2 separate regions of the Homo sapiens genome follow, and region 2 is linked to region 1. A link means that fine-mapping ties the variant in region 1 to the expression of a gene that starts in the linked region. Tissue or cell type: lymphoblastoid cells. Region 1 holds a variant in brackets; the other region holds the start of a gene. All regions are shown on one strand. Distances are between the middles of the regions.

Evidence for each region. PIP is the estimated chance that this variant, and not a neighbour inherited with it, causes the effect.
Region 2: it holds the start of NEK4, and the variant in region 1 is fine-mapped to the expression of NEK4 in lymphoblastoid cells (GEUVADIS, PIP 0.95).

The regions. Positions count from the first base shown.
Region 1 is chr3:52,567,209-52,575,312 of GRCh38, reverse strand. All of the region lies in intron 24 of PBRM1 (polybromo 1), which reads left to right. Among named protein-coding and RNA genes, the nearest start is that of UQCC5, 35 kb to the right of the region's middle. RefSeq lists a silencer at 2,813-3,013. The variant TC/C (reference allele first, on the strand shown) is at 3,183.
Region 2 is chr3:52,766,937-52,775,040 of GRCh38, reverse strand. It overlaps NEK4 (NIMA related kinase 4), which reads left to right and starts at 4,101. Exons shown (of 16, transcript NM_003157.6): 1 at 4,101-4,387; 2 at 6,437-6,703. The coding sequence starts at 4,295. RefSeq lists enhancers at 3,970-4,019, 3,807-4,324 and a silencer at 4,180-4,289.

The DNA of each region.
Region 1 (8,104 bases):
CAGGCTTTGTTCTTAATACTTATTATAGGTTATGGTTGTTTGTTCAGTGACTCTTCTAAACGTTTGTTTGTTTGTTTGTTTGTTTGGTTTGTTTTAAAGATTGTATTTTTGGCTGGGCACAGTGGCTCACACCTTTAATCCCAGCACTTTGGGAGGCTGACATGGGCAGGTCGCTTGAGCCCAGGAGTTCGAGACCAGCCTGGGCAAGATGGCGAAACCCTGTCTCTACAAAAAAATACAGAAATTATCCAGGTGTGGTGGTCTATATCCATGGTCCCAGCTACTCAGGAGGCTGAGGTGGTAGGATCACTTGAGCCCAGGGAGGTCGAGGCTGCAGTGAGCCATGATCATGCCACTGCACTCCAGCCTGGGCAACAGAGTGAGACCCTGTCTCAAAAAATAAAAGATTTTTGTTGTTGTTGTATATGGTTACTACAGTCTCTGTTCTATAAGCTTAGTGATCAGCCAGTGATTTGACAGAGGTTTTCGTAAATACGTGGAGCCAATAAAACCATAAAACTCCCAGTCTTCACTGCTGACTTCTCTGCGTATGGTGGAGCACACCTTCAACACTCAGCCATGCAGATTACAACTCTGCTTTGCCTTTACTTCCTACTTGTGCAGAGCTTGAAGGTCAGCCAGAAATGAGATCTTAGGGCCTTCTTAGGTCCTTTCTGAGCATGTACACTATTGTTGGCATGTGTGTGGCCTTCTAGGCTCCCAGGAATGTGTGGAAACTTTTCAAAACCCTTATTGGCCAAAGCATCTCACTCCTCATCTTTTCCTCTGAGGCCTTTTGTCATATCTACTGTTGGTCCTGACTGATACCCTTTGCCCCAGCCGGCAACAGCTGGTTCATTTGACTTTAAATGTGCTGTGATTTGAATGTTTGTGCCCCCTTCGAAATTCATGACTTAAAGTGTAATCCCTAGTGCAACAGTGTTGGGAAGTGGGGACTTTTAGGAGATGTTTAGGTCATGAGGGCTTGTCCTCGTGAATACAATATTGCTTTTATAAAAAGGGCTCATGTAAATGGGTCTGCTCTGTCTGAATGGGTTTGCTGTCTCTTACACTCTTGCCCTCTGCCTTCTGAAATATGATGACATAGCAAGAAAGCCCTTGCCAGATGCTGGCACCTTTATCTTGGACTTTCCAGCCTCCAGAACTGTGAGAAAACTGTTCTTTATAAATTACCCAGTCTGTGGTATTCTGTTATAGCAGCACAAACAAACTAAGACAAAATGTTTTTGACAAAAAAACCTAGACACTTCTCCACCAAGGGAATTCCAAGCTAAGCACAATAAAGGCAAGCACTTTGCATTAGTGTTTAGAAAGCTGCCTGACAGGTCAAAACAGATGACCACAGTTCTTGGAGCATGGAGCTGTTTTGCTTCCTCTATCACCACAATCTTACACCAGGAATAGAGGCTGCCATCTTCAAGGCTGCCACTGAGACAGAAAGTAAGGAATGGAGTGAGGGTAAGTTAAAATGCCACAGAGCTTTCCTGCCAAGTTTCAGTCACTTTTTTTCTTAATTAAGCATTTGCTTGGTTGCTGTAAACCTTTGACTATCTTACAGAATTCCAATAAAGTTTATTCTGCTTTTTTCACTGTTTCTGTGAAGTAATGGCCCTTAGAGCTCACTACTCCTCCATATTCACTGACATAACTTGGAGTAATTTCTTTCTAAAGATGCCTGTTAGAATGTGTTACATTCTGGCCGGGCATGGTGGCTCATGCCTGTAATCCCAGTACTTTGGGAGGTTGAGGCAGGCAGATCACCTGAGATTAGGAGTTAAGAGACCAGCCTGGCCAACGTGGTGAAACCCCATCTTTACTAAAAATACAAAAATTAGCCGGGCGTGGTGGTGTGCACCTGTAATCCCAGCTACTAGAGAGGCTGAGGCAAGAGAATTGTTTGAACCCGAGAGGTGGAGGTTGCAGTGAGCTGAGATCAAGCCACTGCACTCCAGCCTGTGGCTGGAGACAGAGCAAGAGACTCTATGTAACAAAAAAAAAAAAGAAAGAAAGAAAATGTGTTGCATTCTACAGTTTATCTACCAGTTTTATATCCAGGATCTCATTTAATTTTCAACATGACCCTGGAAGAAAGATGCTGATATTGTCAGAAAGGTGAAGTTACTACCCAGGGAGTGGGCCAGAACTAAAACCTAGGTTTTCCTAATTCTTCTTTAGTTAGTCTACAGCTAGCTGGCACACTTTTGAGAATTAAAGGAGGTGCCAGTAATATCAGGTAGGACAACAGGCATATAATGAAATATAAGTAACTTCATCTTGAGATAAAACCCAAAAGAAAATGCATCTAGTAATCACAAAGTGGGATTTCAGCCTAGCTTGTGGAATTCACTGTCCCCAGCCTCCAAGGAAAAAGGGTTTTGTTATATAAGCTTTAGAGAATTTATAATTTCATTGTATTAACTCTAACCACTATTAAATGTAAATCATATTTTGCACTTTTTTGTGTCTCTGAAATAGAAGTTTTGAAGATAATTAGATGAGGTGTATCATTTTTTCATCTTCTGTTACATACAAAGGAGACAATCCTGTTTTTCCAACGGTTATGTTCTTTTTTCAGTTTCGTTGAAGAATTGTTTTCATTTACTTAAACAGTAATCAAGCTGGGCACAATGGCTCACGCCTATAATCCCAGCACTTTGGGAGGCTGAGGCAGGTGGATCACTTGAGATCAGGAGTTCAAGACCAGCCTGGCCAACATGGTAAAACCCCATCTCTACTAAAAATACAAAAAAAAATTAGCCAGCTGTGGTGGTGCATTCCTGTAATCCCGGCTACTCAGAGGCTGAGGGAGGAGAATCGCTAGAACCTGTGAGGGAGAGGTTGCAGTGCGCTGAGATCACTCTACTGGATTCCAGCCTGAGTGACAGGGTGAGACTCCGTCTCAAAAAAAAAAAGAACTTAAACAGTAATCAGATGGCCACATGTGGCAGACAGTACCTCTACCCTTAACCCCTTAGGTGATAAAATTTCCAGGAACCTGGGCTCTTGAAACATGCCGATTCCTAATTTATTTGCAGGTTTTGTTCCCTTCACAGTAGATTTTTATAACGTTTCATTAATTTAAAAACTGTCCTCAGTAAGGCAAGGAAGATAAAAGATCTAAAGATTTGAAAGGAAAAACAAAAGGGCCTTTTTTTTTTTTT[TC/C]AAAAATATTAGGTATGTAGAAAATCCAAGAGATATTCAGATAAACTATTAAAATTAGTAAATGAAAATATGAAGTTTTTTTTGTTTTGTTTGAGACAAGATCTCGCTTTGTTATCCAAACTGGAGTGCAATGGTACAATCATAACTCACTGCAGCCTCCAACTCCTGGGCGCAAGCAATCCTCCCATCTCAGCCTTCCAAGAAGCTGGGACTATAGGGATGTACCACCACTCCCAGCTAATTTTTTTTTTTTTTTTTTTTTTTTTTTTTTTTGGGGAGATGAGGTATCCCTCTTGCTCAGGCTGGTCTCAAACTCCTGGCCTCAAGCATCCTCCCTGCTCAGCCTCCCCGAAAGTGCTGGGATTATAGGCATGAGCTACCTTACCTAGCCCCAATATTTCTATTTCTGTATCTGTATCCCATCAGTGAGCAATTAGAAAATTATTACCATTTGCATTCAATACCTAGGAATAAATCTTTTTTTTTTTTTTTTTTTTTTTTTTGAGATGGAGTTTCGCTCTTGTTGCCCAGGCTGGAGTGCAATGGTGCAATCTCGGTTCACCGCAACCTCCACCTCCTGGGTTCAAGCTATTCCCCTGCCTCAGCCTCCTGAGTAGCTGGGACTACAGGCATGCGCCACCATGCCAGGATAATTGTTTGTATTTTAGTAGAGACGGGGTTTCACCATGTTGGCCAGGATGGCCTTGATCTCCTGACCTCGTGATCCACCTTCCTCAGTCTCCCAAAGTGCTGGGATTACAGACGTGAGCCACCACGCCTGGCCAATCTTTTTTTTTTTTTTTTTTGGAGACAGTGTCTCGTTCTGTCGTCCAGGCTGCAGTGCAGTGGCACAATCTCGGCTCACTGCAACCTCCACCTCCTGGGTTCAAGCGATTCTCCTGCCTCAGCCTCCCGAGCAGCTGGGACCACAGGCGTGTGCCACCATGCCCAGCTAATTTTTGTATATTTAGTAGAGACAGCATTTCACCATGTTGACCAGGATGGTCTCAATCTCTTGACCTCGTGAGGCGCCTGCCTCGGCCTCCCAAAGTGCTGAGATTACAGGCATGAGCCATGGCACCCAGCCAGGAATAAATCTTTAAAAGATAGCCAACGTGGTAGCTCATGCCTGTAGTCCCAACACTTTGAGAGGCCAAGATGGGAGAGTCGCTTGACACCAGGAGTTCAAGACCAGCCTGGACAACAGAAGGAAACTCTACCAAAAAAAAAAAAAACGAAGAAACAAAGATGTGTAGGGCACCTGCACACGCATGTGCACACATGTGCGCACACACACACAACTATAAGAAAATTATTGAGAAATTGAAGACATAAGTAAATGAAAGTTATCCATCATATTTATAGCTGGAAAATTCAATATTAAAAAGATGCCAGTTCCCCCCAAATTGATCTATTGGTTCGTTCCAATTCCAATCAAAATCCAGCAGGTCTTGATAATTTTTTTATACTTTATTAAATGAAGTTTTCTAAACTTTCATCTTTTCCCTGTCTTTTGGGGGCTTGGTAGGAGCTCCAAGTCAGGACACAGAGATACCACCTCCATTCCAAAGCCACCAATCACTTTTACTCTTTGGTTGTAAGCAGAATTATTATTTTTTCCTAATGTCTATTTTTCCTTCTATAAAATATGGAAAATTGTAATTATCCCTTTTCTGAATTAAAAGGCCTTTGAATTATGTAAATAAAAGTGCTGTGTAAGTTCAAAGCAGTGATAGTAATTGTAGCTATTTTAAGCTTTGGAAATGTTTCTGACCTGTTTTTCATATACATGTTTAGTAAGTTGTTAGCTATGAACATTCCTGTTAAGGTCAAGAGCAAAATAGGGATGTTCTGGCTGGGTGCGATGGCTCATGCCTGTAATTCCAGCACTATGAGAGGCCAAGGAGGGCGGATCACCTGAGGTCAGGAATTCGAGACCAGCCTGGTCAGCATGGTGAAACTCTGTCTCTACTAAAAATACAAAAATTAGCTGATGTGGGCGTGGTGGTGGGTGCCTTTAATCCCAGCTACTGGGGAGGCTGAGGCAAAAGAATCACTTGAACTTGGGAGGTGGAGGTTGCAGTGAGCCAAGATCGAGTCACTACACTGCAGCCTAGCGACAGAGTGAGACTCCGTCTCAAACAAAAAACAAAAAAAGAAAAGAAACAAAATAGGGATGTCCTTATCACACTTATTTAACATTGTTCTAGAGGTACTAGCCAGTGGAGTTAGAAGAAACAGAAGTCTAAAATAAGAAAAGTAAGGAGGTGAAAATTCAAGAGCATCAACTAAGAAATCATGGCAAACAGTAAGAGAAGTGAGATGATTGAATATAAATAAATAACAAACCTATTATCTTAAAAGATTCAGTACTAATAAAATACCTTAGATAAACTTAACAAGATATGCCACATCTGTATGAAAAAAGTTTTAAAATGCTATTGAATGAATGCTTGAACAAATTGCAAAGCAGTACCATATGCCTAGGTAGGTTTCAATGTCATAAAGATGTCCATCCTCCCTAAATTAATCTTTAATATGATCCCATTAGATATACCAGTGGGAATTTGCTTGTGAGGAAGTTGATACTATGTGAACTCATTTTAAAAATCATATTGAAGGCCGGGCGCGGTGGCTCATGCCTGTAATCCCAGCACTTTGGGAAGCCAAGGCGGGCGGATCACGAGGTCAGGAGATCAGGACCATCCTCATTAACATGGTGAAACCCCATCTTTACTAAAAATACAAAAAGTTAGCCGAGCATGGCGGCGGGCGCCTGTAGTCCCAGCTACTTGGGAGGCTGAGGCAGGAGAAGGGGGTGAACCGGGGAGGCGGAGCTTGCAATGAACCGAGATCGCGCCACTGCACTCCATCCTGGGAAACAGAGCAAGACTCCATCTAAAAAAAAAAAAAAAATCATATTGAAAAAGAAACTTAGAATCGGGTGCAGTGGCTCACTCCTGTTATCAATCCCAGCACTTTGGGAGGCCGAGGTGGGTGGATCACTTGAGCCTAGGAGTTTGAGACCAGCCTGGGCAAGATGGCAAAACCTCATTTCTACAAAAAGTACAGAAATTAGCTGAGTGGCACTTGTCTGTAGTCCCAGCTACCCGGAGTAGGGGGCTGAGGTGTGAGGATCGCTTGAGCCCAGGAGGTTGAGGCTGCAGTGAGCAGCTGTCATCTCACCACTGCACTCCAGGCTGGGCAACAAAGTGAGACCCTGTCTCAAAAAAAGAAAAAGGAACTCAGGAAAATTCTGAAAAGTATAGTGAAAGGGGATCTATCCTTACCAGATATTAAAACATTATAGCACTACAATAATTAAAACTATATGATATATGAGTAAACAGGTTATTTGAACAAAATAGAAAGTTTAGCAAATATATGGTAAAAGTGGCATATCAGGTAAGTGGGGAAAGAAGTATTTTTCTCCAAATGGTGTTTGGAAATTCAATAACCATTTGGAAAAATAAAATTGTAGCCATATCCCACATCTTAACTTCAGGATAGATTTCCAGATGAATTATAAATTTAAATAAACATAAAATTAAACAACAAAGATACCAAAAGAAACCATGAGAAAGAAATTTTGTTAATCTCTGACATAAAAGCCAGAACTCATACAATAAAATACTGATAAATTCAGCTGTATAAAAATGGAAAATATCTATATGACCAAAACTGGCAAAAACAAAAATGACAATCTTGAGAAAATATTTGCAATGTTTATCATAGACAAAGATCTGATTTTCCTCATAGATGAAGAGCTCCTATAAAGCAATTAGATAAAGATCAACATCCAGCAGGGAAATAGGCAAAGAAAATAAAGGAGAGCAGAAATAAATTACTAGGGCCCAGTGTGATGACTCACACCTGTAATGCCAGCACTTTGGGAGGCCAAGGTGGGTGGATCACCTGAGGTCAGGAGTCGAAGACTAGCCTGGCCGACATGGTGAAACCCTGTCTGTACTAAAACTACAAAAATTAGCTGGACATGATGGTAGGCATCTATAGTCCTAGCTACCTGGGAGACTGAAGCAGGAGAATCACTTGAACCCAGGAGGCAGAGGTTGCAGTGAGCCAGAATCGCACCACTGCGCTCCAACCTGAGTGACAGAGCGAGACTCCATCTTAAAAAAAAAGAAACTACCAGTGATTCTTAAACAAATGAAAATATACCCGGCTGGGCACGGTGGTTCACACCTGTAATCCCAGCAGTTTGGGAGGCTGAGGGAGGCGGATCATCTGAGGTCAGAAGTTCGAGACCAGCCTGGCCAACATGGTGAAACCCCATTTCTACTAAAAAAAAAAAAAAAAAAAAAACACAAAAATTAGCCAGGCATGGTGGCACACGCCTGTAATCCCAGCTACTCGGGAGGCTGAGGCAGGATAATTGCTTGAACCTGGGAGGCAGAGGCTGCGGTGAGCTGAGATCAAAAAAGAAAAGAAAAGAAAATATACCCAACCTTGGCCATTAGAGAAATGCTAGTTAAAGCTACCCAGGTGCTTTTCTTCTTTTCTTTTTCATTTTTCTTTTTTTCTTTTTTCTTTTTTTTTTTTTTTTGAGATTACCTATCAAATTGTCAAAGATCCAGAAGACATTTCTCACTAGTTGACAAGAGCATGAGGAAATGGTATTTACCTACTTTGTGGGTAGTCTGTGAATTAGGACACCCTTTATGGAAGGCAGTTTGATAATACCTACAAAAATTTAAAAAGTGTATACATACCCTTTAACCCAGCTTTTATAGTTCTAGAAATTTATGCTTCAGATGTATTCACCTACGTGCAAATTGATATGTCTTAAATTATTTATTTCAGCATTATTTAGCGTCAGCAGAAGAGCAAACATTGGGAAACAACATAGATACCCATCAATAGGGAACTAGTTGAATAAACTTAGTACATTCATACAAGCCGT
Region 2 (8,104 bases), 200 kb before region 1:
AGGGGTCTGAAAGTGATTAGCCTTTTGGGTGGGAGATACTTAAGATATTTTAAGCAAGGGTGTGATGAGTTCAAGACTGGGCTGTTGAGAGATGGCTAGCACCAAGCCTGGTCCATGTAAAGTGCTAGAAGCATGTTTGCACAGGGGGAGGGTGGACAGGAGATGGGGAGAGCTAACTATGACCTGTGCCTGTCATGCTTCTTAGCATCACGTCCGAATTCATTTACTGCTCACAACTCCCCACAAGAGACAGATATTATTGTTACTATTATCCTCATGGTACAGAGAAAGAGACGTTGGCCCACCATATGCATGTGGGAGGTGGGGGCCAGGGTGGACAGAAAGCAGCTATGGTTGCTGAGGATTGAGAATGGGGAGTGTAGCTGTGCTGCTGGTGCCGGTGGGACAGCACATGGGCCCAGACCTGCTCTGAGCGCCACCCACACACAGCCAACTGTCTGCTTGATGTGCCCACAGCCCCTCCATCTGGTATGTCCAAACTGAACTCCTGACCTTTGTCTCCTCCTCCCCACACCCCGTTACTAAGCCAGATCTTCCCCCTGTTGTCCACTCCAGTCAAGGCCACCGCCATCTAGTTGGCCATCCAAGCCAGAAGGCTGGGTGGCATCCTGGGTGCCTCAGTCTCCTTGACCACCTACCCCACCTCCCACCCTCTGAATATCCCTCTAATCCATTAACTTCTCTCCCCATCCCCCGTCACCACCTAGTTCAAGCTGCCCTCATCCCTCATTTAGACGGCTCATCTCCTCCTTCTGCTCTGCTCCAGGCAGCAGCCAGAGTCACCATTTAGAAAGGTCAGTCTGCCGCAGGCCTTTCCCTGTCTCGCACACCCTATCCTGAGTGGTATGGCCCCTGCTGACCCCTCTATGTCACCTAGCCCATGGCCCCTCTGAGTCTCTCAGCTTCAACTGCAGAGACTTCTTTTAGATCCAGGTAGGCAGGTGCTTCTCCATTCATTCATTCAGCAAGCGGCAATTCCTTCATTTATACCTGCTGGGTTTAGGGTGTTGAAGCAGACAGGCCTGGCCTCGTCCTCAGGGAGTTCACATTGCGGTGTGGAGGTAAAGTCACAAAATGAATCCACTGGATCTTAGCACATGTTGCTCCTCTGCCTGAAAAAGTTTTTGTTTAAACTTCCACTCATGCGGTGCTTGCTTGGGGCAACCTCTCCTGGATGGCCAGGCTGGGCCTGGCGGCTTTTCTGAACAGTACTGACCTCAGTTGGCAAGGGTAGCTTGTTAGTATGCATGGCCGTCTCCCTCTTCGACAGTAAGCCCCACATGGGCAGGCCCTTGTCTGTCTTGTTCATAGTTGTCCTCCAGGTCCAGGCTAGTAGACCCTTGCTAAATGTCTGTAGAATGAATGATAGGTTTTTTTTTTTTTTTTTTTTTTTAGAAGGAGTATTGCTCTGTCGCCCAGGCTGGAGTGCAGTGACATGATCTTGGCCCAATGCAATCTCCGCCTCCCGGGTTCACGTGATTCTCATGCCTCGGCCTCCTGAGTAGCTGGGATTACAGGAGCAGTGTGCCATAATTTTTTATTGTGGTAAAATATACAAAACATAAAATTTATTATTTAACCATTTTTAAGAATACAGTTCGGTGGCATAAGTACATTCATGTTTTGCATCCATCACCACCATCCATCTCCAGGACTTTTTCATTTTCCCCAGCTAAAACTCTGCACCCATTAAACACCAACCACCAATTCCCTCCTCTCTCCAACAACTGGCAACCACCATTCTACTTTCTGAATCTATGACTTTGACTACTACAGGTACCTCACATAAGCGAAATCATACTTTTGTCCTCTGTGACTGCCTTATTTTGTTTAGCATAATGTCCTCAGGGGTCGTCCATGTTGTAGCATGTCAGAACATCCTTCCTTTTTAAAAATTTATTTATTTTGAGACAGAGTCTCACTCTGTCACTCAGCTGGAGTGCAGTGGCAGGATCATGGCTCACTGCAGCCTCAACCTCCGAGGCTCAACTGATTCTCCCACCTCAGCCTCCCAGGTAGCTGGGACTACAGGCATGCGCCACCACACCCAGCTAATTTTAAAAATTTTTTGTAGAGAAGGGGGTCTCACTGTGTTTCGTAGGCTGGTCTCAAGTGATCCTCCCACCTTGGCCTCTCAAAGTGCTGGGATTAGGTGTGAGTCATAGTGTGTGGCCTCTAGAGCACTAACTTTAAAAAGCTACAATTACAAATCCTTCCTCTGTCCCTCTGAGATATATACCTATGTATTTCCTACAACCTAGGAATGTCTTTCTCAAGGACCTGAAATCCATTCCTTTGGAATGTAATCATCATAAAGGTAGGGCTCATGTCTCCCAGTCTATGTGGGAGAATAGAATCCTAACTTCCCTAATTGCCAGCTAGCAGACACAGTTGGCCTAATCACATTTACGCTAAGCACTCCTTTTAATTTTTCACTTCCCAGACTCTAAGTGAGCCCCTGCATGCTCCCCTGCCTACTCCCTTATTCTTCCTTTGGAATGCCCAATCACCCCTGCGCAAATGGAATGGAGTTCAGCTGCTTCCCCTACTGTCAGTAGTTACTGAATAAAATCTATTTTCATCATTTTAATGCCTGGCTTTGTTTATCTTTAATAATATCATTAACTAGAGTTCAATCTTTATTTATGGTTCTTTTTGTTTGGTTTTCTAGTGAAGATGAAATTGCTTTGAGTAAAATGTGCAAATACTAAATGTACCATTAGATAATTTTGACAAATTCATACACCCAAATCTCCTATCAAGATATATATCAAGGATGAGGAGAAATTTGAACCCCTGTGGATTGCTAATGGGAATGTAAAATGGTTCAGCTTGCTGTAAAAAATGGTGTGGTGGTTTCTCAATACATTAAACTAGAATTAGCATATGATCCAGCAATTTCACTTCTGAGTGTATACCCAAATGAATTAAAAAGAAAGCAGGGACTCAAACAGATATTCGTACACCCATGTTCATAGCCGAATTATTCACAATAGCCAAAAGATGGAAGCTATCCGTGTCCATGACTGCATGAATGGATAAACAAATTGTGGTGTATACATATAATGGAATATTATTTGGCCATAAAAAGGAAAGAGGCCAGGCACGATGGCGCACACCTGTAATAACGGCATTTTGGGAGGCCAACGTGGGTGAATTGCTTGAGCCGAGGAGTTCAAGACCGGTCTGGGGAACATAGTGACACCCTGTCTCTGAAAAAAAATAAAATAGGATTAGCCAGGCATGGACGTGTGTGCCTGTAGTTGGGAGGATGGCTTGAGCCCAGGAAGTCTAGGCAGCAGTGAGCACCATTGCACCACTGCACTCCAAGCTGGGTGGCAGGGCGAGACCCTGTCTCAAAAAAAAAAAAAAAAAAAAAAAAGGAAAAAAAGGAAGCGCTCTGGGAAAGGGAGGCTTTGGCTGGAACAAATGGTGAATTCTTTTGGCACCCCTGAGCTTTCTTGGGCAGGCATTTTAAAGGGGCCTAGGCCCACCTAGAGATCCGCCCTTAGGCTGTTAACTTAGCATGATGCCATGTTAGAGTTTAGTCAAGTCTCTTAGTGCAGTGGTTAGGGTAGTCGTTAAATGCTGAGGAGTCTTTGTAGTTCTCAATTAGCAGGCGAGTTTTTAGGGATGAAAGGTACTGATAATTTACTTTGAATGTATCAAAAAATAGGATGGATTGCTGGATGCAGAGACGGCATGTGATAAAGCGGATACAGCAAATGTTACTGGTAGAGAGTCTGTCACCCAGTCATTAGAACATGAGCTCCAGGAGGGCAGGGACTTTGTTGGCCTGGCACATAGGCGGTCAACAAATATTTGCAGAATGAACGAACAATACTTGTAACGGCCTTAGGACAAACAAGTGCACAAAAAGAGGAAGCTTTCCCTGACTCTGTTGTGGCGGGGATCCGGACGGTGGAACGGACGCACAGAAAGTGCGCGGAGCCTGGCGGAGTCGCTCTGGCCTCCTGGAGCCTCTGCTCTATGGCGGGTCCTCCCGGGGCTGCGGAACCTCTCTGGCCGCTCGTGGCGTCCGCTCTATGGCCGTCCTTTGGGGACGCAGGAGCATGCGCAGAACTGCTCCCGGCCCGGATCGCTATGGCAGCGGCGTCGTCGCGGGCCGGGCCCCAGCAATCCCGCCCGGGCCCGGCTGCCTCAACAGCCGCCCCCACTGCCCCCTCTCGGGCATGAACCGAGCTTCTTGTTGCCGCCCGCTGCCCTACCCGCCGCTGCCGCCGCATCCCGACTCTGGGCCAGCGCTGGGAACATGCCCCTGGCCGCCTACTGCTACCTGCGGGTCGTGGGCAAGGGGAGCTATGGAGAGGTGACGCTTGTGAAGCACCGGCGGGACGGCAAGCAGGTCTGCAGGGGTGGGGCCCGGCAAGGGGCGGGGGCGGGCAGAAGTGCGCCGAGGGCGCCGACCGGTAGATTAGGTCGGGGGTGGTCGCAAGAGGCTCATCTCGGATGGCGTTTCCTCAGGGAAATGGTCCCAGACCAAGACGAGGCCTGGCCTCCCTGTAATATGCGCCCAGAACTACTTCTACTTCTTTGTTGTGTTAAATTTTTTTCCTTTTAATTTTCATTTTCTTTAATTACAATTCTAAGTTTTATGTAAAAATTTTCAGTCTCTGCCTATCTACTTCTTTGTTGTACTAATTGGCATGCGTGATCTACACACCTTTCTCCCAACCCCGATACTCTCATGAGAGCCGGTATCATGCATTCCCAGGACTTAATACAGCGCCTAGCAAGCATTATTCCTTGAATGAAGGGCCCCAAACGTCTCTACTGTAGACTGCTGGATTCACTTAAAACTCGACTCATTTTCTTCCCGCCAAACCTTCTCTCATGTCTTCCGTTTCAGTGAATAGTGACACCAACCCACCAGTTGCCCAAGCCGGACACCTGGAGTCATTTTTAAGCCTCCCCACGCACCCCAACACTGATTATATTCATCTATCACTAAGACAATAGGCCTCCTCTCATCTCTACTGCTACCACCCCAATCCAGGACACCCTGTTGTCTCTAGCAAAGCTATGGCCACGGTTTCCCAACTGGTCGCCGCCACTTGACTTGCTTTTCTCCAATCCATCACTTTCACTGCAGCCTCAGTGATCTTTCTCAAATTTAAATCTGATGTTGTCACTCCTCTGTTTAAAACACTTTATCCCATTACTCTCAGGATAATGAACCAATTATTCAATGTGGTTTATTAATAGGGTGACAATATAATGTACAAACTGGGACAATTTTGAAACTGAAAGGCATTATTAATAGTTACACCAGGACAGTAGGACTGCTCCAGGCAAGCTGAGAAGAGATGTTCCCCCTAAATATAGGGCCCAATTGCCTGTTCTTCCTTGTCTCTGGTGCTAGTTGCTTTGCGTGGAACACAAGCTCATGCATAAGAAATTTATTCAGTAGGCATTGGGGGAATCATTGGATTTTGGGGCTGATGATAGGGAACTAGCAATAGCTAGTTATTTGAGCTTTAGTTTACACTTCACAAAACACATTTATCTATGTGTTGAAGAAATGAATTGTATGGTCTTTGAAATGATTGAGGGCAATGTATTAGGTATTAGAGGCTATTGATTTCTTTTAAGTGTGAATAATTTTGTATGCTGAAGATCAGTGACTATTAAACTTATGGGGCCATGGATCCCTTTGAGTATCTAACGTAATCCACAGACTATTCTGTCTGCAAATGTATAGTCAAGCTATATTTTATTCACCTTTTTGGGAGAGCTTAGATATTAAGGAATTTCTTTTTTTATTTTTTATTTTTTTTGAGACAGAGTCTTGCTCTGCCTCCCAGGCTGGAGTGCAGTGGTGCGATGTTGGCTCACTGCTGCAACTACTGCCTCCCAGGTTCAAGCAATTCTCCTGTGTCAGCCTCCCGAGTTGCTGGGACTATGGGTACACACCACCACGCCGGGCTAATTTTTGTATTTTTAGTAGAGACAGGTTTCACCATGTTGACCAGGCTGGTCTTGAACTCCTGACCTCAGGTGATCCACCCGCCTCACCCTCCCAAAGTGCTGGGATTACAGGTGTGAGCCACTGTGTATGGCCAGATATTAAGGAATTGCTAACACAGGTTTTATAATTGATCCAATGGTATGTTATCTTGAACTCACTTTTTTTAGTCATTAATGAAATTGTGAAATGCAGATGGGAAAGGTAATTTTTGTGGCCCTACACTGCTATAAATCTAACTTATAAGAAGTATCAATAATAGCAAATATTTTCCCCGATTTTGTGCTTGGTGAAAAACAAAATGAATAGGTTATCTGACAGGCTCCACAAGGTTGGTTTTGAGGGTATTCTTGAGAGCCCTTAGATAACTCTGAGGCCACAAATCTTACGTTTATTTGCACATTGTAAAAATACATGGTTTGTTTTTAGTATGTCATCAAAAAACTGAACCTCCGAAATGCCTCTAGCCGAGAGCGGCGAGCTGCTGAACAGGAAGCCCAGCTCTTGTCTCAGTTGAAGCATCCCAACATTGTCACCTACAAGGAGTCATGGGAAGGAGGAGATGGTCTGCTCTACATTGTCATGGGCTTCTGTGAAGGAGGTGATTTGTACCGAAAGCTCAAGGAGCAGAAAGGGCAGCTTCTGCCTGAGAATCAGGTGGTAGAGTGGTTTGTACAGATCGCCATGGCTTTGCAGGTACTGTGTAGACTAATAGCATCCTAGCTTGTTCCCAGATGGCAAGAAGATGGCAGGTGTATTTTAGGAAAATTTTTCTTCAGATACTTACATATAGAAATGTATTTTTTGGAAAATTCATTTGTGAAGTTGACCCAGTCACTCTTTCTGTAGCATTGGAACTTTTCTAAGTAAGTGATACCTATATTAAAATAGACATAGATTTCATGTCTGATTGCAGGGGAAGCCCACTCAATTACCATTTATAGCAAAGTCAATTTTAAGGACCCTGAGGCAACCAAGAGCATAGAGTGACTATGTTTGTTATCCATTGGTCAGTCGTGTCATGCTGAAAGGTGGCTAGGCTAATTGATATGCCCAGTGATTTCATCTGTCAGTCTGCTGGGGTACAGTAGATGGGAATGCAAAACAAGTTTTCTTTTTTTTATTTTTTAGAATTGGGCAGCACATCATTCCTTAAGATGGAATAAGTGTTCCTACAAGTTTGTGTTTTAATATGCATATAACTCAAAAGCGAGACGTTTATGAAATACTATTTTGGAACTGGGTAGACTTGTCCAGAATTAATTGACCATGTTTAAATTCTGAGATACTTTCTCTCTTTTTTTTTTTTTCTTTTGAGACGGAGTTTTGTTTTTGTTATCTAGGCTGGAGTGCAATGGCACGATCTCGGCTCACTGCAACCTCCACCTCCCAGGTTCAAGCGATTCTCCTGCCTCAGCCTCCCAAGTAGCTGGGATTACAGGCGCCTGCCACCATACCTGGCTAATTTTTTTTTTTGTATTTTTAGTAGAGATGGGGTTTTACCATGTTGGCCAGGCTGGTCTCGAACTCTTGACCTCAGGTGATCCACCTGCCTCGGCCTCCCAAAGTGCTGGGATTATAGGCGTGAGCCACCACGCCCGGCTGAGATACTTTCTCTAAATAAAAATGCTCTTGCTGTACTTGAAAATATTATTAAGCTGAGGATTTCATGGGTCTGAGAGGACTGTGCGTCTGACTTTGTATAAGTTGTCCTACCATCAGTGGAGTTTGTAAGCATTGTTTTTTTTTTAAGACAGAGTGTCACTGTCGCCCAGATTCGAGTGCAGTGGCACAATCGTGGCTCATTCCAACCTCCACCTCCTGGGTTCAAGTGATTCTTGTGCCTCAGCCTCCCAAGTAGCTGGGATTATAGGCGTGCGTCACCATGCCCAGCTAATTTTTGTATTTTTTTAGTAGAGATGGGGTTTTGCCATGTTGCCCAGGCTGGTCTTGAACTCCTGGCCTCAAGTGATCCGCTCACCTCGGCCTCCCAAACTGCTGAACACTGCGCCTGGCCTGTAAACATATTTTTTTTTTTTTTGAGACGGAGTCTCGCTCTGTCGCCCAGGCCGGACTACGGACTGCAGTGGCGCAATC